Linked DNA regions of Homo sapiens: all the other regions are linked to region 2. Evidence: fine-mapped expression QTL. A gene starts in region 2. Each other region holds a variant in brackets. All regions are shown on one strand. Distances are from middle to middle.

Region 1 (9,953 bases), 47 kb before region 2:
AACAAAATAAAGCAGGTTTTCATTTTATTTTATTTTTAAATTACAAAGTCTCATTACGTAGATATAGGAGGAATTTGCAATAGTCCCTGTGAGAAATGCTGGTGTTTCATACCAGGGGGATGATACTGGATTTATAGTAAAAGCTGGAATCAGTGCTTGGCTTTGGCATATCATATATTCATTCACCTGATACTCAGCAAGTCACTAACCCTCTTTAACTTTCAGATTATTCAAATGTAAACTGGCTATAATGCAATCTATGTACTGGATATTGTATTGTAAAAAATTAGTAATAAAACGAAAATAACATGCAAAAATACTTCGAAAACTCTGTAGATCTGTAAATAGGTTTTATTCTAAAAACTGAAAATAACGTAAGAGGTCATTAAAGGAAAATCAGAAAATACAATCAACAAATCTACCCACATATAGTCATTCTTAAGCTTTGATGCATGCACTTCTAAGTTCTTCAAGCATATACTTTTTTTGTTTACAGATATGAGACCATACTTATTCTTTTGTAAATAACCTTATTAATGACATCATTTTTTTTGTTAATATATATTCATGTGCACTTACAACATTATTTGTAACAGTTGTGTGATATTTCATGGTGTAGATGTGCTATATATAATTTATTTAATAGTCAGATATTGCTGAACAATTAAGTTTTTTACAAGTTTTTAACTGTTACAAAAATGAATATATTTGAGGCTAAATCTCTGTATATTGTTGGTTATTTGCTTGTTATAAATTCTCAGAAGTGGAAATTCTGTGTCAAAGGGAATGATTGTGACGCTATTGATACTGATATGTGCTTTAACATCAAGATGCAAAGTGTACATTTCTCCCCTCCCACACTTAACACTAGCCATCATTGATTTCTCTGATATTAGTAAATATATTTGTTCTAATGCACGTTCTTTGACACACCTTCATTTATCCTTTTCTGTCTTTGGACTGAAAAGTTAAATCTATTGATCCTTTTTCTATTTTATGTAATATAAGCAATTTCTCCCAGGTTGTCTTGCTTTTCACTATATAAAAGCATTTCATCCTCATGTAATCAAATGTATCTGTACTTTTCTTTGTGATTTTGCCTTTAATGTTATTCTCAGAAAGTCCTTCTTACCCCAAGATTTTAAACATATTCACCAAAATTTCTGTTTTGAATTTATTTTCTTCATTTAAATAAAATATCTGCCCTGAATTTACTTTGTCTTAAGGTATAAAGTGTAGAAATTTACTTTTCTCCTAAGTGACTCATAGTTTTTTCAGCATGAACATGTCATCCCCCTGTATTGTCCTTACCCTGTTTTAGTGATCTAGAGGGAGCAGGAAGACCAGAGTCACTACAGTGTTTTTCGTGCTTTTCATCATGGCCACCTCCCTACCCCCAGAGTCTGCACAAGAGAAAAATGTGTCCAGTGGGAGAGATAGCACCTGCCTTCAATACAAATCCCATTTCATTAAACATGGTCTTGTTAGTGTCATGTAGCTTCCACCTTCTATTGATAAAAAATGAGTCATGTTCATAGTTAATATTTTTGCTTTTAATTCAACTTTGATATTAATATTGGAACTTTTAAGTGTTTTAAGGTTTAGTATCTCATATCTTTTTTTCTCTCTCTTTTTTTTTTTTTGAGCCGGAGTCTCGCTCTGTCACCAGGCTGGAGTGCAGTGGCGCCACTCAGCTCACTGCAACCTCCGCTTCCCAGGTTCAAGTGATTCTCCTGCCTCAGCCTCGTGAGTAGCTGGGACTACAGGCACGCACCACCACGCCCAGCTAATTTTTTGTATTTTTAGTAGAGATGGAGTTTCACCATGTTGGCCAGGATAGTCTCGATCTCTTGACCTCATGATCCACCCACCTTGGCCACCCAAAGTGCTGGGATTACAGGCGTGAGCCACCGTGCCTGGCCTCTATCTCTTTATTTTTGAATTGTCATTTAAATTTAGTTTTTGTCTCTCGTGTATAGCATGTAATGCCTTTAATTTCAAAGTTATCTGAGAGTATTTCTCAATATGCAGTATGAGAGTAATATGTTTGTATTTATGATTTCTGGTACGTTTGGTTTTATTTATCATCTTTTTCTTTATTAAAAATACTTTGATATTTTCTTTGTAAATTTGTCTATATTTTGCAATTAATTGATTTGTTTTTATCCCTTGCATTTTTTGTTGATATGCAAGTCAGAAGCCCATTTCTAGTCTATCAATGTTTATATTTAAATGTTTAGAAAACATAATTATACCATTTTATCCATCAATATCGAGAATAAAACTGGACTTGTACCTGTGAAAGATAAGAAATGCAACCTGCCTTTACTTCTATCTTCTTCCACACCTTGAATCCTAGTGTAAGAATGCCTAAAAATTCAAATCAATACTATTATTCATGATTTTATATTATCTTTACTTTCAGAATCATTTATTTACATTTTCACCTGCTACTTTTCTTTTATTATTATACTGTAAGTTCTAGGGTACATGTGCACAATGTGCAGGTTTGTTACATATTCGTGCATGTGCCATGTTGGTGTGCTGTACCCATTAATTCGTCATTTACATTAGGCGTATCTCCTAATGCTATCCCTCCCCCATCCCCCCACCCCATGACAGGCCCTGGTGTGTGATGTTCCCCTTCCTGTGTCCAAGGGTTCTCATTGTTCAATTCCCACCTGTGAGTGAGAACATGCAGTGTTTGGTTTTCTGACCTTGCGATAGTTTGCTGAGAATGATGGTTTCCAGCTTCATCCATATCCCTACAAAGGACATGAACTCATCCTTTTTTATGGCTGCTTATTATTCCATGGTGTATATGTGCCACATTTTCTTAATCCAATCTATCATTGTTGGACATTTGGGTTGGTTCCAAGTCTTTGCTATTGTGAATAGTGCTGCAATAAACATACGTGTGCATGTGTCTTTATAGCAGCATGATTTATAATCCTTTGAGTATATACCCAGTAATGGGATGGCTGGGTCAAATGGTATTTCTAGTTTTAGATCCTTGAGGAATCGCCACACTGTCTTCCACAATGGTTGAAGTAGTTTACAGTCCCACCAACAGTGTAAAAGTGTTCAGTTTCTCCACATCCTCTCCAGCACCTGTTGTTTCTTGACTTTTTAATGATCACCATTCTAACTGTCGTGAGATGGTATGTCATGGTGGTTTTGATTTGCATTCCTCTGATGGCCAGTGATGATGAGCATTTTTTCATGTGTCTGTGGGCTGCATAAATGTCTTCTTTTGAGAAGTGTCTGTTCATATCCTTTGCCCACCTTTTTATGGGGTTGTTTGTTTTTTTCTTGTAAATTTGTTTGAGATCTTTGTAGATTCTGGATATTAGCCCTTTGTCAGATGAGTAGATTGCAAAAATTTTCTCCCATTCTGTAGTTTGCCTGTTCACTCTGATGGTAGTTTCTTTTGCTGTGCAGAAGCTCTTTAGTTTAATTAGATCCCATTTGTCAATTCTGGCTTTTGTTGCCATTGCTTTTGTTCACCTGCTACATTTTTATGCTACATTAACAATTATTATTTAGACTTACCTAATTTTGAGTTTATATTATTTATCATCTTTTCTCTGTAAGTCATCTTCCTTATTTCTGTGTTCTTCATTTTGATTCATTGCTCAGCTGACTCAAGCACTTTGAGTAATTGTTTTTAGGAAAGGTACATGGAGGCTATGCTTCGTGTTGCTTCATGTTGGAGTATCTGTCTGTTGTTCCCGAGTGTGAACCGTACTTTTCCTGGGTATGGATTTACTGAGTCATAGTTATTTCCCTGCAAACTCTGCACATAACTGCTTGAAGCTGCATTTACATAGTATACCTTTTTAACCAAAAAAGTCTCAATTGTGTATTTACTTGGTATAGTTTCAGGGGACACTCAAACAGATTAAGGGGCTAAAGCCACCCAAGCCACTTCTTCATGCCTTCGTAATCTGTCAGACTTGGTTCTGTATGGTGACATTGTCAAGTGAGTTCAGATTTATGACATTTCCTTGATACCCAGAGATCTAGTAGACTGTGTGGGATCAGAGGTTCTTGTAGTAAGGGAATGGCAACTTGAGGAGAGAATTCACCTCTTTTGGCCAATTGATCCTCCATCTATATCAGCCTTAACTCTCCAAGCCTGGGTGGAGGTGGTGGGTCCAGGTGGAGAGGGGAAGATTAGAAGGATTGGGGATTTCCTTTATCTCAGGTTAACCTAACATCATTCATCAAAGGCCAATTTTGTTTTTTTTAACTTTTATTTTAGGTTTGGAGGTACACGTGAGGTTTGTTACATAGGTAAACTTGTGTCAGGGAGGTGTTTTTTTTTTTTTTTTACATATTATTTCATCATCCAGGTATTAAGCTCAGTACCCAAATAGTTATCTTTTCTGCTCCTCTCTCTCCTCCTGCCCTCCCCACTCAAGTAGACCCCAGTGTCTATTTCCTTCTTTGTGTTCATCAGTCCTTATGATTTAGCTACCACTGATAGGTGAGAACATTCAGTATTTGGTTTTCTCTTTCTGCACTAGTTTGCTAAGGATAAGAGCCTCCAGCTCCATCGATGTTCCCACAAAATACATGATCTCATTCTTTTTTTATGGCTGCATAGTATTCCATGGTATATATGTACCACATTTTCTTTATCCAATCTGTCATTGATGGGTACCTAGGTTGATTCCATGTCTTTGCTATTGTAAATAGTGCTGCAGTGAACATTCATATGCATGTATCTTTATAGTAGAATGATTTGTATTCCTCTGGGTATCTACTCAGTAATGGGATTGCTCAGTCAAATAGTTCTGCTTTTAGCTCTTCAAGGTATTGCCATAGTGCTTTTTACAGTGGTTGAACTAATTTACACTCCCACCAACAATGTGTAAGTGTTCCCTTTTCTCTGCAACCTTGCCCGCATCTGTTATTTTTTGACTTTTTAGTAATAGCCATTCTGACTGGTGTGAAATGGTATCTCATTGTGGTTTTGATTTGCATTTCTCTAATCTGTGATATTGAGCTTTTCTTCATATGCTTGTTGGCCACATGCATGTCTTCTTTTGAGAAATGTCTGTTCATGTCAAAGGCCAATTGTCAGTGCCCCAGTTCTGCTCAGTATCTGCCCTCTTTGTTCTCCAGTCTTAGGCACAGGCTGTGAGCATTGTCTTAGGATTCATGGCTCTTGGGGTGGAATTTGAGTCCTGTGTTGGAGGCTTCAGTATGACAGAAACTTCCTGAAGACTTCTCCTACTGAAGCCTCCTGTGTTGGAGGCTTCTCCTCCTGAAGAGCTTCCAACACAGGAGGCTTCAGTAGGACAAAAAAAATTGTTCCTCATGAGCTACCTTGTCTCCAGCCATAAGGTAAAATGAGGCATTATTGGAGGCTCCATCAAACAGGTTCTCCTTCCTTTGATTAATGGAAGGAGCCCAGTCTTTCGGGTGTTTCTCCTTTGAAGTATATCTTACTAAAATGTCTTACCTCTGAAGTTCATTTGCAACCTCATATGCGACTCTTGCTAATGTATATCTGCTCACTAGGTGTCTAGTTTGAGGGGATGACAAGAGCATCATTTACTCCCTATGCTCATTCCTGAAACCTTATTTTATTGCAGTGGAAACTGAGATCTGGCCAAAGTTTGATGATTTGCCCAGGCTGGCATTAAAATACAGTTCTCTTCTACCACCCTTTTCTGTCTTCATGCTATACTCCTTGAGATGATGACCACAAGTTTAAGTTTAGTATTGCCATAAAGTTGGGGTTGGGGCTTTGCATGCAATGGAAATGTTACTAAACATCCAAAGTTTACTGTCTTCTGGATAGCATAGTAAACAAGTAAAATACTCATGGAGCAGGAAGAATAACATTTTAGCTATTAGTAAAAAGCATTTTGTTATACAACTTCTGAATAATTTTCTTTTAA[A/G]ATTATATTTATAAGGGCCTTTGTTTTTTGGTTAAATTTACAATATATGTTAGAAGAAATCTGATTAATTTTATTTTTACTTCTTTTTGCAGCAGTAAGATTAAGAAAATTGTGCATTCAATTGTATCATCCTTTGCATTTGGGTATGTGAGACACAGAAAACACCATGTATTAAATATATCTGAGACTTGGCTGGGTGTGGTGGCTCACGCCTGTAATCCCAGCACTCTGGGAGGCCGAGGCGGGCGGATCACATGAAGTCAGGAGTTCAAGACCAGCCTGGCTAACATGGTGAAACCCCATCTCTACTAAAAATACAAAAATTAGCCAAGCATAATGGTGGGTGCCTGTAATCCCAGCTACTCAGGAGGCTGAGGCAGAAGAATCGCTTGAACCGAGGAGGCATAGGTTGCAGTGAGCTGAAATTGCACCATTGCACCTCAGCCTTGGTGACACAGCAAGACTCCATGTAAAAAAAAAAAAAAAATGAGTCTCATATATATCTATACATACATATATATATATATGAGACTTAATACTTCAATGAGAAACACTGAAATAAAATAACAAAAAAGCATTTCCACTGTCCATCAGTTGCTAAGTAGCCATGTGCCCCATCTAATGTAATCTAATTTATCATGGAATTTTGGTTTAAGCTGGACATTAAGAATTGCAAATAAATGGCTTTTGCCTAAGATTAATAGTAACATATTGTTTTTCTTCCATCTGCAAAAGTAACATTAATGAAAATCAAATGTTAAAATTCTGTAATTATTAGTAAAGTGTTTTATTAGTACCTTATACATCTGGAATTACTCTTTAATTCTGGAAACTATTTATTTAGACTACATAAGAGTAAGATTTCATACTATATGATATAGATTTATGCAATATAATTGTTTCCTTTTGAATTAATAATATTTGAATTTGAGCTGCAAGTTTTTAAAAAAGTACTTCAAAGACTAATTCACCTTCATAGATTAGGCAAATAGTCGAATCAATTTATGGAGAATGTATTTGGAATATGTAACAGCAAGTGGCAGGAGGTACTTTAGAGTTCAAGACTCATGTGCCCATCACTCTGCTCGAAGCACCCATAAAGATGAAATCATGGACTTGTTGAAAATGTCACTGATGAAAAATCTTGGTCTTTTAAGAGCTTATGTTACTCATGCTTTCATTTGGTTTTTATTAATAAATTCTTTAGAATTATCCAGATTAATGAGGGTTTATTTTTTATGAGAAGTTGGTATAAACTTCTTATGAAATTCTCACATTTTAAGAAGAGTTTGTAAACAGACACAGGTGATTTTAATTCAGTTTTACTTTTTCTCTCTTGAGGTGTTGGTCTGATGTGTCTACTATAAAAGGCCATGATAATATCTTCTGAAGTGGTTTGGTGAGAATTTTGTTTATTAAGAACTGCTTCTATTGGGTGAAAACAGTGATTTTTCTGAGATTCTAAGGCATTACAGTTTTTCCTGCCACTGGGCAGCTTAATACTAAATAATAACATTTTGGTACCTGATCAGTGGCTTAAATATAGTATAGCTATAGGGACAAATGCCCCTTTATCTTTGCATTTATTTATTTATTTATTTATTTATTTATTTATTTATTTATTTATTTATTTTAGACTATTTGGAGTTTTCCTCGTCTTACTGGATGTCACTCTCGTCCTTGCCGACCTAATTTTCACTGACAGCAAACTTTATATTCCTTTGGAGTATCGTTCTATTTCTCTAGCTATTGCCTTATTTTTTCTCATGGATGTTCTTCTTCGAGTATTTGTAGAAGGGTAAGTTTGATTATTTTTATAATAAGAACCACTTTGGGAGGCTGAGGTGGGAGGATCCCAAGGTCAGGAGTTCGAGACAATCCTGGCCAACATGGTGAAACCCCGTCTCTACTAAAAATACAAAAATTAGCTGGGTGTGGTGGTGGTTGCCTGTAATCCCAGCTGCTTGGGAGGCTGAGGCAGGAGAATCATTTGAACCTGGGAGGCAGAAGTTGCATTGAGCCGAGATCATGCCATTGCACTCTAGCCTGGGTGACAGGGTGAGACTCCGTCTCAAAAGAAAAAAAAAAAAAAGCATTTAAAAATAATTAACAGGAGCATTCACTGCAAACTGACTTAAGAGCCTTTGGGCCTTATGAGAACATTGGTGGTAGTCTGGCAGTACCTCCCCATGGCCTGTGTTTGAGGTGGCCCTGGATTGATGCTCCTCTGTCTTTGGACAGGGGTGGAAATAGTGGGAGGGACTGCATCTTGTGGTTTGAGTGACAGCTCAGCCATAGCACAATAAAACACTACGTAGACTTTTACAGTTTTTGATCTAGGCCCTGATTCCCAGACAGCACCTTTGGATCCACCTGGAGGCTAGGAGAACTTGCCATCCTGAAGGGAAGGACACAGGCCTGGCTGTTTTTACCATGTGATGACTGTAGAGCCCCAGGGCCTTCAGCAAACTCATGCAATAGCTAAGGAGTGGTTACAGCAGGTCTTGGGCAAGACCCCGTGCTGTGCTGGCCTCAGGTCTGACCCAATGCAGTCACAGTAGTGGTGGCCACAGAGGTGCTTATGTCACTCAACCCCAAGCTTTAGGTGCCTCAGAACAGAGAGAGAGACTCTGTTTGTTTGGGAGAAAGTAAGGGAAGAAAACAAGAGTCTCTTTTTGGTAATGCAGAGAATTATCCTGGATCTTGTCCAAGACCATTAAGGCAGTACCGCTATGAGTCTGCAAGAACCAGAGTTTAGGAGGCTTGGGGTGCCCCCTAAAGCAGATAGAGATTAGATCACAGTATCCAAGTTCTTTCAAGTATCTGGAAAGCCTTCCCAAGAAAGATGGGTACAAACAAGCCCTGACAGTGAAAACTACAATAAATACAGTGAAAACTACAATCAATACCTAACTCTTCAATGCCCAGACACCAAAGAACATCTGCTAGCATCAACACTATCCAGGAAAACATGACCTCACCAAATGAACTAAATAAGACACCAGGGGCCAATCCTGTAGAAACAGAGATATGTGACCTTTCAGACAAAGAAATCAAAATAGCTGTGTTGAGGAAACTCAAAGAAATTCAAGATAACACAGGGAAGGAATTCATAATTCTATTAGATAAGTTTAACAAAGAGATGGAAATAATTTAAAAGAATCAAGCAGAAATTCTGGAGCCAAAAAATGTAATTGGCATGCCAAAGAATGCATTAGAGTCTTTTAATAGCAGAATTGATAAACCAGAAGAAAGAATTAATGAGCTTGAAGACAGGCTATTTCAAAATACATAGAGGAGACAAAGGAAAGAATAAAAAACAATGACGCATGCCTACAGGATCTAGAAAATAGCCTCAAAAGGACAAATCTAAGTGGTATTGGCCTTAAAGAGGAGGTGGGGAGTGTAGAAAGTGTATTCAAAGGGATAGTAACGGAACGTCCCAAACCTACAGAAAGATATCAATATCCAAGTACAAGAAAGTTATAAAACACCGAGCAGATGTAACTCAAAGAAGACTACCTCAAGGGATTTAATAATCACAGTCCCAAAGATCAAGGATAAAGAAAGGATCTTAAAAGCAGCAAGAGAAAAGAAACCAATAATATACAATGGAGCTACAATATATCTGGCAGCAGACTCTTTAGTAGAAACGTTTCAGGCCAGGAGAGAGTGGCATGACATATTGAAAGTGCTGAAGGAAAAAAACATTTACCCTAGAACAGTGTATCCAGTGAAAATATCCTTCAAAGTGAAGGGGAAATAAACACTTTTCCACACAAAAGCTGAGGGATTTTGTCAACACCAGACCTGTCCTAGAAGAAATGCTAAAGGGAGTATTTCAATCAGAAAGATAAGGACATTAATGAGCAATAAGTAACAACCTGAAGGTATAAAACTCACTGGTAATAGTAGGTATACAGAAAAATGCAGAATGTTATAACACTGTAACTATGATGTATAAACTACTCTTACTCTAAGTAGACTAAACTATGAGCCAATCAAAAATATTAACTACAACTTTTCAAGACATAGATGGTA
Region 2 (9,953 bases):
ATTTTTTGAGACACGGTCTCACTCTTTTTTTTTTTTTTTTGAGACAAGGTCTCACTCTGCTGTCCAGGCTGGAGTGCAGTGGTATGATCAAGGGTCACTGCAGTCTCAACCTCCTTGGGCTCCGGTGATTCTCCCACCTCAACCTCCCAAGTAGCTGGGACTACAGGCATGCACCACCACACCCAGCCACCATGCTCAGCTAATTTTTGTATTTTTTGTAGAGAGAGCATTTCGCCATGTTATCCAGGCTGGTCTCAAACTCCTGAGCTCAAGCAACGCCTGCCTCTGCCTCCCAAAGTTCTGGGATTACAGGTGTGAGGCACCGCCTGTGGCCCAGCGCCAGGATTTTAAATTGGGAGACTGGGCCCAGACGTGGTGGCTCACACCTGTAATCCCAGCTTTTTGGGAGGCTGAGGCGGACGGATCACCTGAGGTCAGGAGTTTAAGACCAGCCTGGGTAACATGGTGACACCTCCATCTCTACTAAAAATACAAAAATTAGCCAGGTATGGTGGTGGACGCCTGTAATCCCAGCTACTCTGGAGGCTGAGGCAGGAGAATTGCTTGAACCCGGGAGGCGGAGGTTGCAGTGAGCCGAGATCGGGCCACTGCATTCCAGCCTGGGAGACAGAGCCAGACTCTGTCTCAAAAAATAAATAAATAAATAAACTGGGAGACCAGGAGGGCCTACCTCTGAAGGGGACTTGAGAAAGGTGAGAGGTGAGGGGGGTTGGTGCTCTGCGGGAAGAGCGCACCAGGCAGTGGAAACAGCCCCTGCCAAGGCCCTGAGGCCAGAGGTTCATTCCATGGGAGGCCAGTGAGGCTACAGGGCTGTGAGCAAGAAGAAAACTTACAGGAGCTGAGGTCAGGAGAGCCAGGTGCGGGGAGTGGAGGACAGATCCTGGAGGGCCGTTTTCAGGCCAGCCCTTGATGTTTAGTAAATCTATGAGTCCTTAGTCAAGACTGAGATTCCTGGGGCAGGTACTGAAATCTTTCTGGGTTTATCTGCAGCCATATCGTCATTATCTGGGAATTCCAGGGCTGTCCTTGGGATCCCAGCCCAGTGCTCCTGCGTGCCAAGTGATCTTGAAGGGTCTGAAATAGGGAGCAGGTAAAAAATGTCAGTTTGGGAACACAGTGGCTCACACTTGTAATCACAGCACTTTGGGAGGGCGAGGCAGAAGGGTCACTTGAGCCCAGGAGTTTCAGACCAGTCTGGGCAACACAGTAAGACCCCATCTCTATAAAAAATTTAAAAATTAGCTGGGTGTGGTGGTGCATGCCTGTAGTCCCAGCTACTTGGAAGGCTGAGGCAGGAGGATCGCTTGAGCCCAGGAATTTGAGGCTACAGCGAGGTATGATCCTGCCACTGCACTCCAGCCTGGGTGACAGAATGAGCCTCTAAAAAAAAGACAAAAGCCAGTTTGGAAAGGTGTTGTGAGAGCCACTATTCCTGAACCAATGCAGAGCAGCTGAAACCCAGGGTGGGCCCCTTGGGAGCTGGCAATTCACCCCACACCTATTCTAGCCTGATTTCATCTTCTTGTTGGCTTGCAGAGAAGGTAGCTAGGGGAACTTTGCCACACCCTTGGGTTTTTTGTTTTGTTTTGTTTTTTATTTATTTTTTTGAGACGGAGTCTCGCTCTGTCGCCCAAGCTAGAGTGCAATGGTACGATCTCGGCTCACTGCAACCTCCGCCTCCTGGGTTCAAGTGATTCTCCTGCCTCAGCCTCCCGAGTGGCTGGGATTACAGGTGCCCGCCATCGTGCCCAGCTAATTTTTTGTATTTTTAGTAGAAACGGGGTTTCACCGTGTTGGCCAGGCTGGTCTTGAACTCCTGACCTCAGGTGATCACCCGCCTTGGCCTCTGAAGTGCTGGGATTACAGGGGCGTGCCCGGCCCCACCGTTGGGTTTTAAAGTTAGGAGTTAAATCTGAGAGGAATCACTGTGAACCAAGTCGGAGAGAGAAGTCAGGCTGTGGGGCTGCTGGAACACGTAAGGTTTTGTTTTTCACTTTGGACCAGTCTCCCCTCCTCAGCTGGGTTTTGTGTCATGGTTTGCCTTCCCTTATAGCTTCACTGCAAAGCTCTTTGGAAGGGCCCACACACAGGTCTTCCAGGGATAGGAAGGACAAGGACTTGGGCCCACAACTCAGGCAGTGGACAACAGCATGTCCTTCCAATGGCAAGGCAGGGAGGCTCCCTAGCAGGCCTGGGGATGAGCCGGGCTCCTCAGCCTGGCTGGCCCAGGGAACTGAGCAGGATCTTAACTGGGGCAGGGGGTGGGGTGGGGGTGCTGGGGTGGGAGGTGTGGTTACAAGTCCTGAATGCAGAGGGGAGAACGTGAACGTGCTGCAGTCAGACCTGGCGATCTGGCTGGGTTAGGAAGGGGCAGGGGGTCTGTTCCAGCCAGGCCCAGTTTAAGGGAGAGGTTGATCTGTGCCCTTAGGCAAGCACTGGGAGGAGCCTGATTCCTTCTCTGAAAGAATACAGTGTAATCTGTTGTTGTTTGAGAGGATTAAATGAGATAACAAATAACCTCCTCTCCCAGGGCTGGTTGCCTTGAAAGTGCTGAAGAAGAGGAGGGCTTTGGGAAGCAGGGCCCAGGTTGGAAGGTTAGGGGTGGTAAGGACTGGAGGACACAGGGGCAGACTTCACCCCCTGCTCAATTGTGCCCAGGCCTCTCTGCCTGGGCTCATGTGAGGAAAGAAACAAAATGGGTGGCGGTGGGGTGGCGCTCAGGCCGGCTGAGAACTTGGGCCCAGAGTTACCGGATCTCCTAATGCCCCCAGAGAAACAGGGAATCTGGATCTGAAATATGAAATCTTCCAGTTTTAAAACTTTGGGGAGTGGCCAGGCATGGTGGCTCACGCCTATAATCCCAGCAGTTTGGGAGGCCGAGGCAGGCGGATCACTTGAGGTCAGGAGTTCCAGCCCAGCCTGGCCAACCCCGTCTCTACTAAAAATACTGTGTGGTCCTGGGCAAAAATTAGCCAGGTGTGGTGGTGCACATCTGTAATTCCAGCTATTCAGGAGGGAGGCTGAGGCTGGAGAATCACTTGAACCCAGGAGGCAGAGGTTGCAGTGAGCCGATATTGAGCCACTGCACTCCAGCCTGAGCCACACAGCGAGACTCTATCTCAAAACCAACAAAAACAAAAAGCAAAAAAAAAAAAAAAAACTTTGGGGATTAATTAACAAAACAACAACAGAAAGCACCGCGCAGGCCAAGTAAAGCCCACCACCTGGCTGGTGACCCCCTGCTCTGGCAAAGGTGTCACTGAAGGCAGGCCCTCCTGGGAGGAGGCTTCTCACTCTCCTGCTCTTGGAAATGGGCTCTAGATAGACCCAGTTTCCTGGTGATCGCTGGGAGAACAGAGCTGTCCTGTTGGGCTTTGTGGTCCTGGGCAAAGCCCTTCCCCTCTCTGGGCCAGTTTCCTGGCCGGCGAAAGGACTTAGTCTGTGGGGCTCCTGCCCGTTTGGACACGTGTGTGACTCAGTCCCTCAGCCTCGAGGAGGGAAGATACGGCTATTATAGAAGTGACTCCTCCCAGGAACTGTGCTTCCGGGATTGGACGCAGGGCCTCAGGCATTTTGCGTGTCCACAGTCACAACTGTGTGAATATAGGTGTGTCATAATTGGAAGCTTTGCATGGCTCAGTGTAAATATCATCACTTTAATGACTTTGTTCTGCAACCTTTCATCGCGGCTCTGCATGCCGGTAGAAGCTTTTATTAATTCTGTGACCTGGGGAGGACAGGGTCCTTCCTCCCATTTGCTGTTTAAGGAAACCCAAGCTCAGAGCTGGGAGGTGGCTTGGCTAAACGTGCACCACTCGGAGCCCAGACTCAAGTGTCGGTGCTTTGGTACTTGTGGCACCCCTCCTTCAACAGGGGAGAATGAGGTTGGGATCTGAGGGGTCCTCTCTGTGCCCATCACAGTTTGAGCTTCAGGGAAAAGAAGAAGAGGTCTTTGCCCTTCGTTTTTCCACGGGAGGAGAATGTATGAGCCCAGGCTACCTTTCTGGGCCTTGTGTCGACATCCCTAGCTGTCTCCTCAAATCTCTTGCCCTGAATCAACCTGGCCTGTGTTCTCTGCGGCACTCGGAACCTGGAGGCGGACTGAGCCTCCAGCAGTCTAACATCTTTTGCAGTGTCGTGAATAGCCGCCTGTTTTCGCAGGGGCCCAGTGCTCTGCCTGGAGAGGAGAGAGATCCTGGCAGGCGGGGAGAGGAGACTTTGGGTCTAGACCCTCCCCTCCCATCCCCTCACCTCCGCTTTTTGTGCGCCCTCCTCTTCCCTCTGTCCCCCCCGCACCCCGTCTTTTCCACCTGTGCCCTGGACTGCATTAGGGTGTCAGTATCTGTGTGCTCCCCCACCCCCACGCGTAAGCCCGCGCGCCTGCACTGAGGCTGGGGAACTGCGTCTCGCAGCTGCGGCCCCCAGCGCGGAGGGCGCGGGCCCTTTAAATCCTCCGGGGCGGCGGCGGCGGGCCGGGGATGACATCAGCGGGCGGGCCCGGGGCTCAATGGGAGCCGGCGGGCGCGCGCGGTGCGAGAGCGCGCGAGCCGGCGGCGGGGGCGGGCGGGCGGGCAGGAGGCCGGGAGGAGGGAGGCGGCGGCGGCGGCGGCGGCGGCGGCGAGAGCCCAGAGCCAGAGCCCGGCCGGGGCCGAGCGGAGCGCGGCGGCGGCGGCGGCGGCGGCGGCTGGGCCGGGAGAGGCTGGCGCGCCGGGCGGCTCCGCGAATCCTCCGGCATCCGCCCCGGCGGGCCGCCCCCGCCCGCGGCAGCCCCCCGAGCAGTGGCCCGGCATCGGCGCCTTCCCGGCGGGGTAAATATCGGGGGGCCGCGGGCCCGCGGAAGGGTGCAAACCTGGGGGGAATCGGGCTCCCTCAGCCTCTTTGTTTTTGCTGGAGAGGGAGGGAAGGGAGGGCAGACACACGCGCGTTCGCGCTGGGGTGTAGGGGGGGCAGCCCGGGCGCCGCCCGCTCGGCCCGGCGAGGACAAAGGCGCGGCTGGGGACGAGGAGGAGGGGGCCTGTTATTTTGCAGGCTCGCGGGGGAGGCCCCCCGGCCGGCCTGCCTCCGCTTCCCCCCGCTGGGCCCTCCGAGGCCCCGGCCGGCCAGGCGGCCACCCCGGCTGTGATTTGGGGACGCTGAGGGAGGGGGCTTGGGGTGCTGGGCGCCGGATACTGTTGATTCGGGCCCGCGTAGCGTTTCATCGGACAATCACCGGCGCCCCCTGCTCTCCCGGCCCCGGCGCCCGGACCTGGGGGTTCGCAAGGCTGCGCCCGCTCGTTGGATGACGGGCGTTTGGGGGTCCTAAGGTGAAGAGGTGTGTGGTCACCAGGCCACTGATTTGTTTTTCTTTGTGGAGAGAAAGAAAGGGGTGGGGGTTATTTGTCGGATCGGATTCTCCCATTTTTGTGTGAGAGATTGATGTCTTGCAAGTCTCTAAGGAACGCAAAACAGTGTCTGGGTGTCGTTAGAGGATTCCCAAGCTCTTGTTAATACCCTAACTCGAAGTGGGGTGAGCCCCCTCCCCAACTTTTCCCTTAGTTTTCTTGCATATTTTCTTCCTGGCATAGCCTCCTTCCTGGAGAAGGATTTGGAGAGAGGAGAAGGGGACACAAGTGTCTCAAGTTGCTTCCAAGCAATGCCTGTGTTTGGGTCTCCTTTGCCTTCGTTTCTATGATGTCCCTTCAATTTTTATTTTAATCGTCCGAGGGACAAGGGCCCCGGCTCAGGGGTAGGCGATGGTGTTCGGGGAGTAAGAAGCACTGCCCGTGTGCCATGCTGGTTGGTAGTTTGTCTAATTTTTTTAACCTGCTGAAACTCTTGAACCTTTATATCCACTTTTCCCCCCACTTTGTTTATCTCCCCCCCTCCCCCATGGGAGAAGCAGCAAAAGAACTGAAAAGCCTCTCCATTCCTGAATGAAGCTTTTCTGCTCTCCTCTGGGAGGCTTTTTGGGTATTGGTGCCGGGACAGTCTAGGCTCCCCCAGGGACCTTGGACCCCTGGGGTGTTGGGGAGCGACTGGGGGTCTGGGTGGCTGGCACATAGCAGTCAGGGGGTCCTGAAGGGCTTGCCCCTTCCCGCTCTCGTTCTCTGCAGACAGCCGGTGAGTGGGGAGAGACTGGGGGGTCATGTGCAGTATATTTATGTAAGACACCCAGACAGAGGGCACGGGTATTTATATAACCCGGCGTGGGTATTTATGTAATATAGGATGCGGGTATATTTATGTTCCTTTCCTAACCTGCGGGTTTCCTGGCTGCCATGTGTGGTCTCTGAATTGGTGTTGGCAGAAAGTGGACTGAGGTGTTGGGGGGGGGTTGCGTGCACACCCCCCCTTACCCCCCAACAGGGCTCACTGTGTGTGCCTGCTTTTCTTTCTTCCGTTGGAGTGTACACACTCGGGAAGCTGGACGTGTGTGTACGTGGGATGTGTGGCGTGTGGGTTTCCTGCAAACGTGGACTGTGTTCCCCTGGCAGCGTGGCACCTCAGCTGAGACAGGCCAAGCATATGGGCAGCGGCCCTTGATTGAGAGCCCAGAGTTTGGCCAGCTCTGGTGGAGGTCCCTGCCTCGTGGTTATTGGTGGAGGGCTGGTGAGCTCCTTGGGAGCCAGGTGCCGGGGTTCCCTGTCTCTCCTGGGATCTGCCCACTGTCCCTGGAATCCATCTCCCTCCCAGGCTGGCCTGGTTGTTGGGGGCAGCACTTGGCACGGGCAAGGGGCTGATCTTCTGTGCCAGCACAGCTGCTCTGCAGTCTTCCTGTTTTGCCCTGTTTGTGAGTGTGGGAGACCACCAGGTGGGACAGCCGGAGCCCTGTCCTCGGCGAGGCTGTACCATCTGCAGGGTGGTGTGGGACAGGTGGCATGGCCTCTGTGAGCCTGAGTACCCTGTCTGTGAAAGGAGTTCCCTCTTGCTAGTCCTTGATGCTGGTCCTCTTGTAAACACCCCTCCCCCTGTTTACTGCAGTCCCTGGTCCCTGTCCCCACGGCAGCACTGCCTCCAGGCCTTCAGTTTCCTCCTCTGCTGACCAGGAACAGGGTGTCCGGACTTTTGCCCCAGGCCAGAGCAGAGGGGTCCCTCCTCTGCCCCAGGCCAGAGCAGAGGGCTCCCCCCTGGCCCTGAGGAAGGAGAGAAGCTGCTCACATCAGAACTCCTCCTCCCACCCATCCGGGGCAGGCGGCTAAAACCCTGGCTCAGTCCCCTTTGTTGTTCTATGAGGGCCCTCTTAGGAGACCCTCCTAGTCTTAAAGGACGCCAGCTCCAAACAGTTTATCCAAGCGGCTATGGGCCTCCGTGTGAGGTCTTGGTGTCATGACGTAGAGATGGGGAGGTGGCTGGAAGGTGGATGGTCGAGGGCATTCTTTTCTGCCTTCCCCCCAGTAGGGGATGCGACTTTCTCCTGCAAGGCGTGCTGGGCACTGGCGAGGTCTGGCCTCTGGGCAGGGGCAGTACTTGGGAAGACCAGGCCAGGCTGTGGGAGCCTGGGGGGTAGGAGGTGTAAGAGGGCTGATGCCCGTTGTGATCCCTTGAGAAGCTTCTTTTGAGGGGCCCCTGAATGAGCATCCCCCAAAGACATGCTTGCTTGGCTGCTTCCTCTCTGGCCACACTGAAACCTGTCCTCAGCCTGCCTTAGCTGTTCCCCAGGTGTGTGGAGTGCAGGCTGTGGGCCACCTGACACCTGCAGAATGTGGTCTTCGAGAATGCAGGTTTTCGAGTTCCTGGTGGCTCTGCCTGGCCTTGGTGGACTGGACCCCTTTCCCGGCTCCCCACGTCGCTGACCCTCATGTTCCTGCTTCCTCTGCAGCAAGAGTGAGCCATGGAGCTACGTGTGGGGAACAAGTACCGCCTGGGACGGAAGATCGGGAGCGGGTCCTTCGGAGATATCTACCTGGGTAAGTGTTCCTAGCTCCAGCTGGAGCCCCTGGGGCCAGCCCATGGGACCAAGAGGAGGAAAGACCCCAGGATTTGGGGATCTGAAGTCAGAATGTGGCTCCAGGGGCATGATTTGCCCCAGGGCCATCCCAGATGGGGAAGGAAGCAGCAGGTTGCCGGGAGGCAGGCCAGGGGGCTCCTCTCGCAGGCCAGGCTGGGCACTGGAGGGTATTTTTAGCTCCAGTTTCTGCAGGAGTCATGCGGTTCTTTTGTGCCTCAGTGTCCCGGGTCAGCTGGGTCACCAGCTGGGTGTGGGAAAACCCAGGCGGGGTTCACATCCTCTCCCCTGCTTCCTGGGAGAAGGATATTGGTAGATAGAAGGGACTTGGGTTGCTGCTGGACCCCTAGCCAGGCCCCCCTCTCTATGTCCTGGCCTCCTGGAACCCAGCCCAGGCAGGCTTTGGGATGACGCAGGCTCCCCTGTAACCTCGGGGGTGGGGTGGGGGGATGCGGTCTCCTCATTAGGGAGTTCTCTCTCTCTCTTTTTCTCTCCGGATGTGCTTCCTGTTGAAAGTATGAGTATGCTGTGATGTTGCATTTTAAACAAATCACTGACCTCTCAGTCCTCCCCTTGGCCTGGGAGAAATGAGGCTTGCGCCTTTCAGTGCCACTTCTGAGGGGCACGGTCATGAGTCTTGGCCCTTCCTTTGTGCTTATTGGTCCAAAGGGAAGGTATTTAGTGTTGGTGCTTGTGGATTAGCGGGTGGAGGCTTGAAGTTGCTGGAGTGAGGTGGCCAGCCCTTCTACGAGTTATCCTCATTCCTGTCCCTGCACCCTCAGAAGCAGGCTAGACACACCTCTGTGCCTTGGTTACCCTCCTTGGAAAATGAAAATCAGCTCTGTCCAGTGCAGAGAACACCAAGTCTGTGTGTCGTGTCCATCAGCTCAGAACTTCGGGGTTTCTGTTACCCCATGGTTAGGGTTCCTTGGAGTATGAAATGTGCTAAGGAAGCCTCAATGGAGACGGGGACGGAGACTGGGAGTTCCCTGACCACTTCCTTGCAGGGTACTTTCTGCAGCCCCTAGAGATAGTACCAGATTATTTGTTTGGCACATCAGGAAACTGAGGCACAGATGGTCAAGTTGGCCTCCCAAGACCGCTCTAGAAAACTGGCAGAAGCAGCCTGTATGCCCACAGCCCTCCACATGAGTGAGAGCGTGGAAGACAGAACATGCCGAGGGAGACGTTAGACGTCTAGCTCTGCGTTCTAGACGTGGCTTTGTGTGGCTGTGGGAAGGTCATGCAGCTCCTCTGTGCCTCAGTGTCCCCATCTGTAGTTTGTGATAATGCTGCCTGACTGACCAAGAACTGTTCCAAGGCAGAGATGAAATGACAGATGGGAAAGTATTTTGTAAACTCTAAAGTGCCAGCCAGATGTGCAGTTCATTGCTGAGTGCTTAGTAGATGAGCCTCCCCTATGGACACCCTGGAGCTCAGAGGGAGGGAGAGTGTGTGGTGCAGCTGGTTTAAAGGTTTTTCTCTGCGACCCCAAGCTACTCCCGGGGAGGCAGGCATTTGGTAATATCTGCTAGTGCCCAGCGCAGTGGGTGTTCACTGAAGGCTAGTCAAGCAAACCAATGAGAAAATGGGGATTGTGACATGCACAGACATGCACAGTAGCCTCACAGCAGAATAGAAAAATGCCGGGATGGCCAGGTGCGGTGGCTCACACCTGTAACGCCAGCACTTTGGGAAGCCAAGACAGACAGATTGCTGGAGTCCAGGAGTTCGAAACCAACTTGGGCAACATGGTGAGACCCCATCTCTACAAGAAAAATATAAAAAGTAGCTGGGCATGGCGGCACGCGCCTGTAATCTCAGCTACTCAGGAGGCTGAGGTGGGAGAATCACCTGAGCCATGGAGGTTGAGGCTACAGTGAGCTGAGATCACACTCCAGCGTGGGTGTCAGAGTGAGACCATGTCTCAAAAAAAAGGAGGCCAGGAGATATGGCTCACACCTGTAATCCCAGCACTTTGGGAGGCCGAGGCGGGCAGATCACTTGA
Region 3 (9,953 bases), 24 kb after region 2:
CCTGGGCACCCAGAGCCCCCCAGATAGGCCGGTGGAGGAGGTGGAGGAGCTGTCCCCCCAAAACTACTGGCCTGTGGTCTGGACTCCAGGGCCCCATTTCTGATGTCGCCAGGTGTGCCTGAGCCCATCGGGGCCAGGCCTGAGGAAGTGTTTCTTGGGAGGATGGGATGACCCCCTGTTCCCAAGAGATGGCAGCACAGTGGAGGCCATGGTGGAAAAGGCCCTGCCATGGGGTCCTTGAGGGCCAGGACAGCCTGAGGGAGGGATGGTGGCCACTGCCCACAAGGGGCCTGGTGGGAACGGGTCCCAGGACAGACTCATAGCTAGACCCCGTTGGCGGCCTCTGTGTTGAACCAGAACTCATTAAACACCTCCTCTTGCTTCATCCTGGTGTGCCTCTTTCATGGCAGGGCCCTCAGCCACCCTGCTAGATGGTTAGGACCAAGGCTCTGTTCTCCTGGAAGCCAAGGTCGGCACATTGGTCTTGGGCTTCTCTTCTCTCTGGGTTTCTTGTTCACTAAGGAGTAACACAGAGGTCAGGCAGAGAATGGGGGTCTCGCAGGCTAGGGACCTCAGGGAGAGGCCTCTGTTGCCCTTTTCAGCAAGGCTGGAAATGGGATATGGGCAGGGGACGTCTTCTCTGACTTCACCCTAGACCTTCTGGCTCCAAATGGGGCCCATGGCCTTGAGCACCTGGGACCAGCTCTTTCCACCACAGGGCATTGGGCACTGGGCACTTTCTTATCGAGATAGTCACTCCCACGTCTGGTTCGTGATGGGCTTGGCCCTCCAGCTCAGCACAACTGCAAGAATGGATTTTGTATTCTCTAGACGGACACTGTCCAAGATGGTAGCCATTGGCCACATGCGACACATTTTTAATGAATTAAAATTAATCAAGACTGGAAATGTCGGCCAGGCCTGGTGGCTCATGCCTGTAATCCCAGCACTTTGGGAGGCCATAGAGGGCGGATGACTTGAGGTCAGGAGTTTAAGACCAGCCTGGCCAACATGGTGAAACCCATTTCTACTAAAAACACAAAAATTAGCTGGGCATGGTGGTGTGTTCCTGTAATCCCAGCTGCTTGGGAGGCTGAGGCAGGAGAATCGCTTGAACCCAGGAGGCAGAGATTGGAGTGAGCTGAGATCATGCCACTGCCCTCCAGTGGCCACCACATCCGGCAAGGCAGATGGGACCATTTCCTTCATCCAGAACGTTCTGTGGACATCACTGCTCTAGGTTCCTCCCTTATGGAGTCTCACAAGACTGTCTAGCCAGCAAGATCTCTTTTCCAACCAGGCCAGGAGCACCTCTCCACCCACTGCTGCTGGTCTGACCGCCTTCCTGGAAGTCCCTCTTGAGGCAGGCCCTGGAGTTAGAAGCTGGGCAGAGGCACCCACAGCCTTATCCTTTGCCAATCTCTGACTCAATGCCACGGCCACTGTAGTGAGCTGAACCACCTCCAGCAGTCCCCTGGCAGAAGCACCTGGAAAACATGCAATGGGAACCTTCACCCTGAGGCCAGGCCCTTCCCATGCTACCCAACAGTAGACAGGACACCCTGTGTTGTTGGCTGCACCGGGGTGCTGGGATCTGTGGATCCCTGGGGCCTGGAAGCCACTCTCAGCACATACAGCCACTGTGTTCCGAGGTCCAGTCAGCTGGCCGGGAAGGAATTCAACACAGCCAAGGACAGAGGTCCATATGATGACGGGTGGATGCTCGTGTGACTTTGCTGACCTTTTATGTTTTCTATGGGCAATAAAGGCCAAGAGAGCTCCCTGCTGTGTGTTTCTTGCGTCCTATGGGTTGGATGGGACCATGGAGAGTCGCCCACTTCTTGCCTCGGGGCTGGCAATGGCCTGAGCCTGCTGGGCTCACAAAGGGCAGGGGCTCCAGCCCTCTGCTTGGCTGCTGGCTGCAGGGCTCCACACCTTGGAGTGAGTCACTCAGCCTCTGTATCCCAAGCATGGAAATGAGATTGACCTGCCTCACAGGGTTGATGTGACTCTGCCCGCAGAAGGTTCGGCACGGAGGTGCCACAGCTCGTGTTCCTCCCCAGGCTTTGCTGTGGCTCTGGCTGAGTCACTGTTGGCCAGCCTGCAACCGAGTGGGAGCCCAGGGTGAGGACCGGAGGTCAGGAGTTAGAGCCCCGGTGGTCCCAGGCCTGCCTGAGAGGCTTCTGGGTGGGAGGATGGGAAGATGCATCTTCTAGAGTGTTCTAAGGCAAGACTCTGAACAGTGACCTCTTGGGGTGCAGAGAGCAGAGTGGGACTAGGTGGCAGAGGCCTGGGTTCAGACCCTAGCTCTGCCCTGAGCTGTGCAACCCCGGGCAGGTCACAAGGCCTCTCTGGGCCTTGGTGCCTCACTAAGATTCAGGGATCATTCTGGTCCTAGCCACTACTTCCTGGAGTTGCTTAAAGACAGGGCCCACCCCCACCTCTTGGCCAGTCTCCTGGGAGAGACATGGGTTGCAGGAACCACACCCTGTGCCCATGAGCAGGCCCCCAACTCAGCCCAGAGCTCTCTCCTCCACAGATGCGGCCCCCTTCCTGCCAGCCCCCTGCCCTTCCCTGTGGACGGCCCCAGGATGAACTAGGTAACGCAGTCGGGCGCTGCCCCCACATATGCTCTTCTCTGGCCCCTTCTCACTTCCTCCTGCACCAGGGGCGGCAGTGGCTGGACAGCAGGGCACCTGGGGGCTTAGGGTACCCCTTCTGCTCCAGCTTTGCCTGCTGGGCCTCTTCTTCCTCCGTGGGGAACGTGGCCCCATTTTCTTCTCCAGCTCCCCTTGAGCTTCTGTCCCAAGGCAGGCGGTGTCTGTGGGTTCCCTGGGCCTCCTGGCTGTGGCCTCCACTGCACCTGCCAGAAGCCATTGCCAGGTCCCGGCAGGGGGAAGGACAGCTCCCTGATGAGAAGAGCCCCTGGCTAGGTACCGGGAGAGCTGGTCTGAGTCCTAGCCCAGCCTTCCACTAGTTTTGTGACTCTGGGCCTGTTCTTTTCCCCCTCTGGACACCCCTAGCCAGTCTGCTAGAGGCCTCTAAACAGCTTTCCTGCTCGGTTTAGCAACCTTGAGTAGTTAAGGGCTCTTGGTACACAGAGGGGGGCCAGGGCAGGCCCAGCCCCAGGTCAGGAGGGCCAAGAGGTGCTCTTGATCATCCTGGGCGCATTAGTTGTCCTTTCTCTGGCTCCATCCCAGGAGAGCAGGGCAGACTGACCTCCCTCTGCCCCCAGACTCCTGCTTTCTCCTTCCTCTGGTGGTTGTGTGGCTTCGTGTCTCTGTGCTGTGTGATTGTGGGTCTTGGCTTCCCGCGCTTGTCAGGGAGGCTGGAGCAGAAGGTTTCTGAGATATCCACCTGGCCTCCCTCCCCTTCTGTGCCCTGCAGGGCTGCTGGGCCCAGAGCACCCTGGCCTCTGGGGCTGACTGGTGTCTTTTCTTGCATCCCTGCAGGGTGCAGCCCGGAATCCCGAGGATGTGGACCGGGAGCGGCGAGAACACGAACGCGAGGAGAGGATGGGGCAGCTACGGGGGTCCGCGACCCGAGCCCTGCCCCCTGGCCCACCCACGGGGGCCACTGCCAACCGGCTCCGCAGTGCCGCCGAGCCCGTGGCTTCCACGCCAGCCTCCCGCATCCAGCCGGCTGGTGAGCAGGGACTCAGGCAGTGGGCTGGGTTCAGGGTGGGTGGGGGGCTCTGTTTGTGCCTACTCTGAGGGTGGCTTCCCACTCTCCCTCCAGGCAATACTTCTCCCAGAGCGATCTCGCGGGTCGACCGGGAGAGGAAGGTGAGTATGAGGCTGCACAGGGGTGCGCCCGCCAACGTCTCCTCCTCAGACCTCACTGGGCGGCAAGAGGTCTCCCGGATCCCAGCCTCACAGGTGAGCTGCCCCCCTGCCAGTCCCTCTGGGCCTCAGAACTGAGTTAGAGACCCCCCAGTGGGAGGTCAGGCCGTGGCTCTGTTCTTCCCTTTCCATCGACGCTGCTTGCCTTGGAGTGAACCCCTTCTGTAGAGCCAGGACTTGGCCTCATTTAATCCTCTGAGGTCTGATGAGCCCTCTTGAGCAAAGTCATTCACCAAGGCTCAGGGCAGTAACATTCCCTGGCAAGTGGCACAGCTGGGCTCCAGTCCTCGCTGCCAGGGGCCCAGCCAGGGTGGGCAGCAGGGGCTCAGAGATGAGGTGTTGCTGCTCCCTGACATCAGGGAGCCCCCAGGAGCCCCTGTGAGCATTGGCAAGAGCATGGGGTGTAGGGGCAGTGAGGTCCCATCCTCTTTGGGGCTATGTTTGGATGGGGACACTTGGGAAGGGGGAATCTGTAGTTGCCCAGGGCAGGTGGCCTGG[C/G]AGAGGTGGGTGGGAGCCCTGCCCTCGTCCTCCTGCCTGTGGGCGAGGAGGGAGTCCTGCGAGAGAACCCTCATTGGCCATCTACTTAGGTAGCAGGTTTGCCTCCCTGGGCAACATTCTTAGCTACAGACAGGGACATCTTAGAGTCACTGGAATCACACAGGCCTTCCCTCAGCTTGAGGGGCTGCCTGGAGGTGGGGGTGGGGGTACACCTCCTCAGTGGGGAGAGACTTGCCAAATCTCTATCGCCAGCGGCTAAGGGACTTGACTTGAAGCTTGTACCTCCCTCTCTCTCCCTCCCCCTCTCTCCCTCCCCACCCTCAAAAGACAAGTGTGCCATTTGACCATCTCGGGAAGTGAGGAGAGCCCCCATTGGACCAGTGTTTGCTTAGGTGAGTCCATGACTGCTGCAGATGCAGCCAGCCCAGCCGACCTAGAAGCTCCCAGGGCCCCAGAAAGAGACCAATGTGTTGTGGAGGGGTGGGTGGCAGTGGCAGTGGCAGATGGTACCAGGCGCCCCAGAACTCTAAGGGGCCTCAAGTAGTTTAAAACCTCGGAGGCTGCCTGACTTGGGGCCAAGGGTTTCTATGCTCAGGCCTGACCCCTCATGGATTAGTTTCTGCTGGAAAAACTTTTTCTGCCCTCGGCCAGGTCTCTATCTCCTTCTGCCTTAACATATTTTGGAAGGTTGGTTCCCAGCAGAGACGGGGCCATGGGCTCACACTCTGACCTCTCCCACGGCATTAGCCCTGTCTCAGCCTCTGGGCTGTTACGCAAGTTAATTCCTGCACAAGACTCACAACAGGGCTGTGGAGGAAGCAAAGGAGCCCTTTTTATGCCTCTGTAGTAGGACTGAGAGAGGCCCTCTGGCCAGCGTGAGCCTGCTGGTTCTTCCCGGACTGTACCAGGCCTTGAGGCGGGGTATGGAAACGCCCCACTCTGGGGCCTGGCTTGGGGAAGGGGAGGCGGCAGGGGTTCTTTGGGCTTCTCGAGGGTATAATCTGAGCTCTCTGGGGAACGTGTGTCCATTTGTAGGCAGTAGTCCGACACGTCGGGGGACTCAACTTTACACTGGGACAATCTGTGTGTGGTCTGTTTTGTAGAAATTCATCCACACAAGAGAGTGGAGGCATGAACAGGGCTGGCCTTCCTCGGATCTCAGGCCCAGGAACCAAGCTGTCCATGGCGGGCTGGGCAGATATTTGGGGGTGGGGTGGGGAGATGCTCACCAGGAGGGCAGAGAAGGGAGAGAATCCGTTTCTGTCACATGAAGATGGATCTCCTAGCGTGCTGGGCCTTGAGCCAGGCTCTGGGGCCCAGAGGGAGATAGACCAAGGGACGAGAAGACAGGAGTTTGGGGGGCCAAGTGCAGTGGCTCGCACCTGTAATCCCAGCACTTCGGGAGGCCCAGACAGGTGGGTCACTTGAGGTCAGGAGTTCGAGACCAGCCTGGCCAACATGGTGAAAACCCATCTCTACTAAAAACACAAAAATTAGCCGGGTGTGGTGGCACACACCTGTAATCTCAGCTACTCGGGACGCTGAGACAGGAGAATTGCTTGAATCTGGGAGGTGGAGGTTGCAGTGAGCCGAGATCGTGCCACTGCACTCCAGCCTGGGGGACAGAGCGAGACTCCATCTCAAAAAAAAAAAAAAGTAGCCAGAGACAGCTGTGTACCTCACCTGTCTTTTCCCTTCTCCCTTCTAGTGTCTTCACTGTATTTTCTTTAAAAAAAAAAAAAAAAAAAAAAAGGCAAAAATAAACCACTCAAAAGAACAACAAAAAAACCCAGCACAAAACCGACGATGGAGTTTGTTTCTTTGATTTCTTTGCCAATGGCAAGAAGATGAGATGCCCTCAGCACTGAGGATTCTTGCCCCCTTGTGGTGCCCGCTGCCCCCAACCTTCAGGCTGCCAGATGCTCCCCTGACAACACCAGGCTACAGGAGCCAGACGCCAGGGCCTGCCCGGCCTCCTGTTCCTGCCCCCACCCACCACCTGCCTGGAGAGGAACGGGTCGGGTCCGTGTCGGAGAAGTGACAGGTCCCAGAGCCAAAGCCGGCCCTCAAGCATCATCAGGGAGTGGTGTAGTCAGTTGAAGGCAGTTCCCACCGAGTTTTCCGAGCCTCAGAATCCAGGAGATACGCACAGCCCCACCCACTCTGAGATGACAGTGGCTGACTTCCCGTGCTGGGCTTTTCCATTGTCCCCCTGGCCTCCAGGCTCCTCCTCTGCCTCTCCATGGAGTGGGTGGGGAGGTGGTGGGGGCCGGCGTCCCCTGCGTGTGTGTGTGTGTGTGTGTGTGTGGATGTATTGACCTGTGTTTCCCAAGACAGCAGGTGCCACGGCCCGCCCCGCCTGCCAGCCCGAATTCCCGTTCTCCTGTGTCTACTAACAAGGACATGGGGGTGGGCGGTGACCTCCGCATCCCTCAGAGCTCAGAGGGTCCTCGCTGCCACCGGTCCCCCCCTAGCCCGTCATCAGCCGGTGGCAGCTCCATCTTCCATTCCTGGTTTTAGGGCAGAATCCATGGAGACTGCTTCCAGAAGGCATCTGGCTCTGAGTTATAAATTACTTCCCTGGTCCTGACAGTCACCTGGGGTCCCCCCTCTCCCTGGTTCCACCTTTCTGAGGAGGAGCCTGGAGTCAGGGCTGGGTTTTGGATTAACCCATCCTTCCTAGTTAACACCTTTTTGTTTTTATTTTATTTTATTTTTGTTTGTTTTCTCCGTGTGTGTGTTTTCCTAATTTATTTACCTCTGTTTCCCCTTTTTCCTTTTTTTTTTTAATTAAAGAGCAAAGCTTTTTATTACTTTGTAATTTAAAAAACTGAAAAAAAAAAAACTGAAGAACTTTGGGGGGAATTTTGTACTTTTTTCCTGTGTAAATATTGGACTTTTTTGAGCTTTATCGTGGTTGTTAATTTGAAGTAATAAAGTAGAAAAGATAAAGTGATGCAGGCAGCCCTTTGTCCACCTCTGTGCCCTTAGGGCCTCTCCCTGCAGACCCGGAAGTGGGTCTTGCTGGGAGCAGCAGGAGTCAGTGAGGAACAAGCCCTCGCCCTGAAGGCAGGTGTGGCTGGGGCCACTTTCAGAACACTTGGGCTGTGGTTGGGATGTCCGGGGGCTTTGAAAACACGAGTGCACACAGGTGCCACGCCACAGGTGCCACGCGGGGGTCTTGTAAAGAGGGCTGGGGTGGGGCTGAGAGCTTCCCCCTGCACACTCCAGGTGTGCTGATGGCCTGGGGCCCCTCTTTGAGAAGCAAGGCCCTAAAAGCTCTTCACACATGATTTTATCCACACAAGTATCCTGAGTTAGGTCCTGTTAATAGCCCTGCCTTCGGACAAGAAACTGGTCCTGCTGTAAAATATCTTGCCCACAGTCACAGCTCTGGTGGCAGAGGCAAGACGAGCCGAGGTCATCTCGCTGTGGGGGTTGTGGGGGTGCTCTGACCCTCTCCACTGCTGACCCTGGGGCTCCATGAAGGAGAGTGCTGGAGCGAGCTCTGATAGTGACTCTGGATGAGGTCCTTCAGTCAAGCCTTGATAAAAGGGCAGCGCTCAGCCTCGCCTGCCTTGGTCTCACCAGCTTGGAAAAGAATCTGTCCATCTGCATTTACCCAACACAGTTTACTTCCTTTCGTCAACCGAAGAGCCATTATTGCCACAGTCTCAACCCAGAGGCAAGACGGAAGCTGTCTGGCTGATAGGTCTGCCTGGGAAGCGGATGGAGGGCCCTGGGAGGTTCCCCTCGGGCGTTTTGAAATCCTGGACATAGGTCAAGGCGCCTTCCAGTGCTGGCCGTCAAGACCCAGTGACCCACAGGCTCACGGCCTGGTGGAGGGTTTCCTGCTGTGTGAGGCCCAAGTAAAGGTGGGTCCCCTTTACAGGCATCAGGTATCAGGTGTGTTACCAAAGCCAGGAAATGCCAGTAGGCCCTGGAATGGCAGGTGCTAAGCAGAGCCTGGGCCTTGGGGCTGGGTGGCAGCCAGGAGTCAGTGGTCAATTGGTCAGCCTGCGAAGAGCCATTTTGTTCACCCGCACTTGGTTGAATGAGGTGCTGGGGGAATGCAGCAGAGAGTTCCCCTGCCTCCCTGGACTTTAGGACCTTCTGGGATGGACAACCTGACACCAGACAGCGAGTGGAAGTTACCAACTAGAGGCCCTGAGAGAAAATAATAAGGAGCTGGTCTTTGTCTTTTACAGTGAAAAGTATAGTTTTGTTTTTTTTTTTGTTTTGTTTTGTTTTTGAGACAGGATCTTGCTCTGTCACCCAGGCTGGACTGCAGTGGTGAAGTCATGGCTCACTGCAGCCTCAACTTCCCAGGCTCAAGGGATCCTCCTGCCTCAGCCTCCCTAACAGCTGGGACCACAGGTGCGTGCCACCATGCCTGGCTAACTTTTGTATTTTTTGTAGAGATTAGATCTCACTGTGTTGCCCAGGCTGGTCTTGAACTCCTGGGCTCAAGCAATCCTCCCACCTCAGTCTCCGAAAGTGCTGGATTTACAGGCATGAGCCATTGTGCCCACCCTATTTAATCAATTTTAATAATAAGCTAATGCTTCTCCCCCTCCTCTTTTTTGGTTTATTTTTTGGATATGAAGGTGTTTACATACACGAAAGTCAAGCTGTCTAAAAAGCTATAATCTGAGAATCCCTCCCGCCCCTGCTGCTCTGCCCCATTTCTACCCATCATGCTTCTTCCTGCATTCCTTTCTTAGAGAGCTAATGTTTGGGAGTGGGCAGTGACTGACAGCCTCTAAGGAAGTGACATTAATGCGTCAACCATACAGTTTAAGTACACCAAATAATCACAAGGAAATTTTGCCCCTACCAGAGGGGGCAAACAGGCACCTGGTGAGTCATTTTCATTCATGCCACAAAAAACACTTGCTAACTGGGCTTTTGTGTGGGCACCAGGGTGCCAGCTACTAGGCTGGAGGTGGTGCAGGCGTGGAGGGTTGGGAGCACAGGATTGGCATCCTGGGGGCTTCGGGCACATCTCAGTTTCCTCCTCTGTAATGTGGAGGTGATGATGCCTGTTTCTTTCTTTTTTTTTTTTTTTGAGACGGAGTCTCGCACTGTCGCCCAGGCTGGAGTGCAGTGGCGCGATCTCGGCTCACTGCAAGCTCTGCCTCCTGGTTTCACGCCATTCTCCTGCCTCAGCCTCCCGAGTAGCTGGGACTACAGGCACCCCCAACCACGCCCGGCTAATTTTTGGTATTTTTAGTAGAGATGGGGTTTCACCGTGTTAGCCAGGATGGTCTCAATCTCCTGACGTCGTGATCCACCCTCCTCGGCCTCCCGAAGTGCTGGGATTACAGGCAGGAGCCACCGCGCCCGGCTGATGATGCTTGTTTCTGAGGGTTGCCAGAATTCAGTGAGACCTCAGATGAACACAAGGGCTAAGCTCATTGAGGGTTCACCTGTGCCAGGCCATTTCCAACCCTTTGCTCCCAAAAAGACTGCGAGGTTAACGTATTATGTTCCTTATATTATTTTATTTATTTTTTGAGATGGAGTTTCGCTCTTATTGCCCGGACTGGAGTGCAATGGCACGATCTTGGCTCACTGCAACCTCCGCCTCCCAGATTCAAGTGATTCTCCTGT

Which allele goes with the higher level. Positions count from the first base shown, and alleles are read on the strand shown. Sizes are in standard deviations (SD) of each study's normalised expression. Not every link is listed here.
For the expression in tibial nerve of the gene that starts at base 4,556 in region 2, allele G in region 3 goes with a lower level than allele C (moderate effect, 0.51 SD a copy in GTEx).

What was found.
Region 1: its variant is fine-mapped to the expression of CSNK1E in whole blood (INTERVAL, PIP 0.96).
Region 3: its variant is fine-mapped to the expression of CSNK1E in tibial nerve (GTEx, PIP 0.98).

What each region holds. Positions count from the first base shown.
Region 1 is chr22:38,359,156-38,369,108 of GRCh38, reverse strand. It overlaps TPTEP2-CSNK1E (TPTEP2-CSNK1E readthrough), which reads left to right. Exons shown (of 15, transcript NM_001289912.2): 4 at 7,549-7,710. It also overlaps the pseudogene TPTEP2. Among named protein-coding and RNA genes, the nearest start is that of TPTEP2-CSNK1E, 35 kb to the left of the region's middle. The variant A/G (reference allele first, on the strand shown) is at 5,913.
Region 2 is chr22:38,312,036-38,321,988 of GRCh38, reverse strand. It overlaps CSNK1E (casein kinase 1 epsilon), which reads left to right and starts at 4,556. Exons shown (of 11, transcript NM_152221.3): 1 at 4,556-4,829; 2 at 7,820-7,907. The coding sequence starts at 7,832. It overlaps TPTEP2-CSNK1E (TPTEP2-CSNK1E readthrough), which reads left to right. Exons shown (of 15, transcript NM_001289912.2): 6 at 7,820-7,907. The coding sequence starts at 7,832. RefSeq lists enhancers at 2,212-3,116, 6,918-6,967, 6,988-7,157, 7,228-7,287 and a silencer at 4,839-5,228.
Region 3 is chr22:38,288,034-38,297,986 of GRCh38, reverse strand. It overlaps TPTEP2-CSNK1E (TPTEP2-CSNK1E readthrough), which reads left to right. Exons shown (of 15, transcript NM_001289912.2): 12 at 3,453-3,645; 13 at 3,739-3,878; 14 at 4,668-4,732; 15 at 6,049-7,296. The coding sequence ends at 4,700. CSNK1E (casein kinase 1 epsilon) reads left to right here. Exons shown (of 11, transcript NM_152221.3): 8 at 3,453-3,645; 9 at 3,739-3,878; 10 at 4,668-4,732; 11 at 6,049-7,296. The coding sequence ends at 4,700. Among named protein-coding and RNA genes, the nearest start is that of TMEM184B, 20 kb to the right of the region's middle. RefSeq lists enhancers at 7,315-8,022, 8,023-8,732. The variant C/G (reference allele first, on the strand shown) is at 4,341.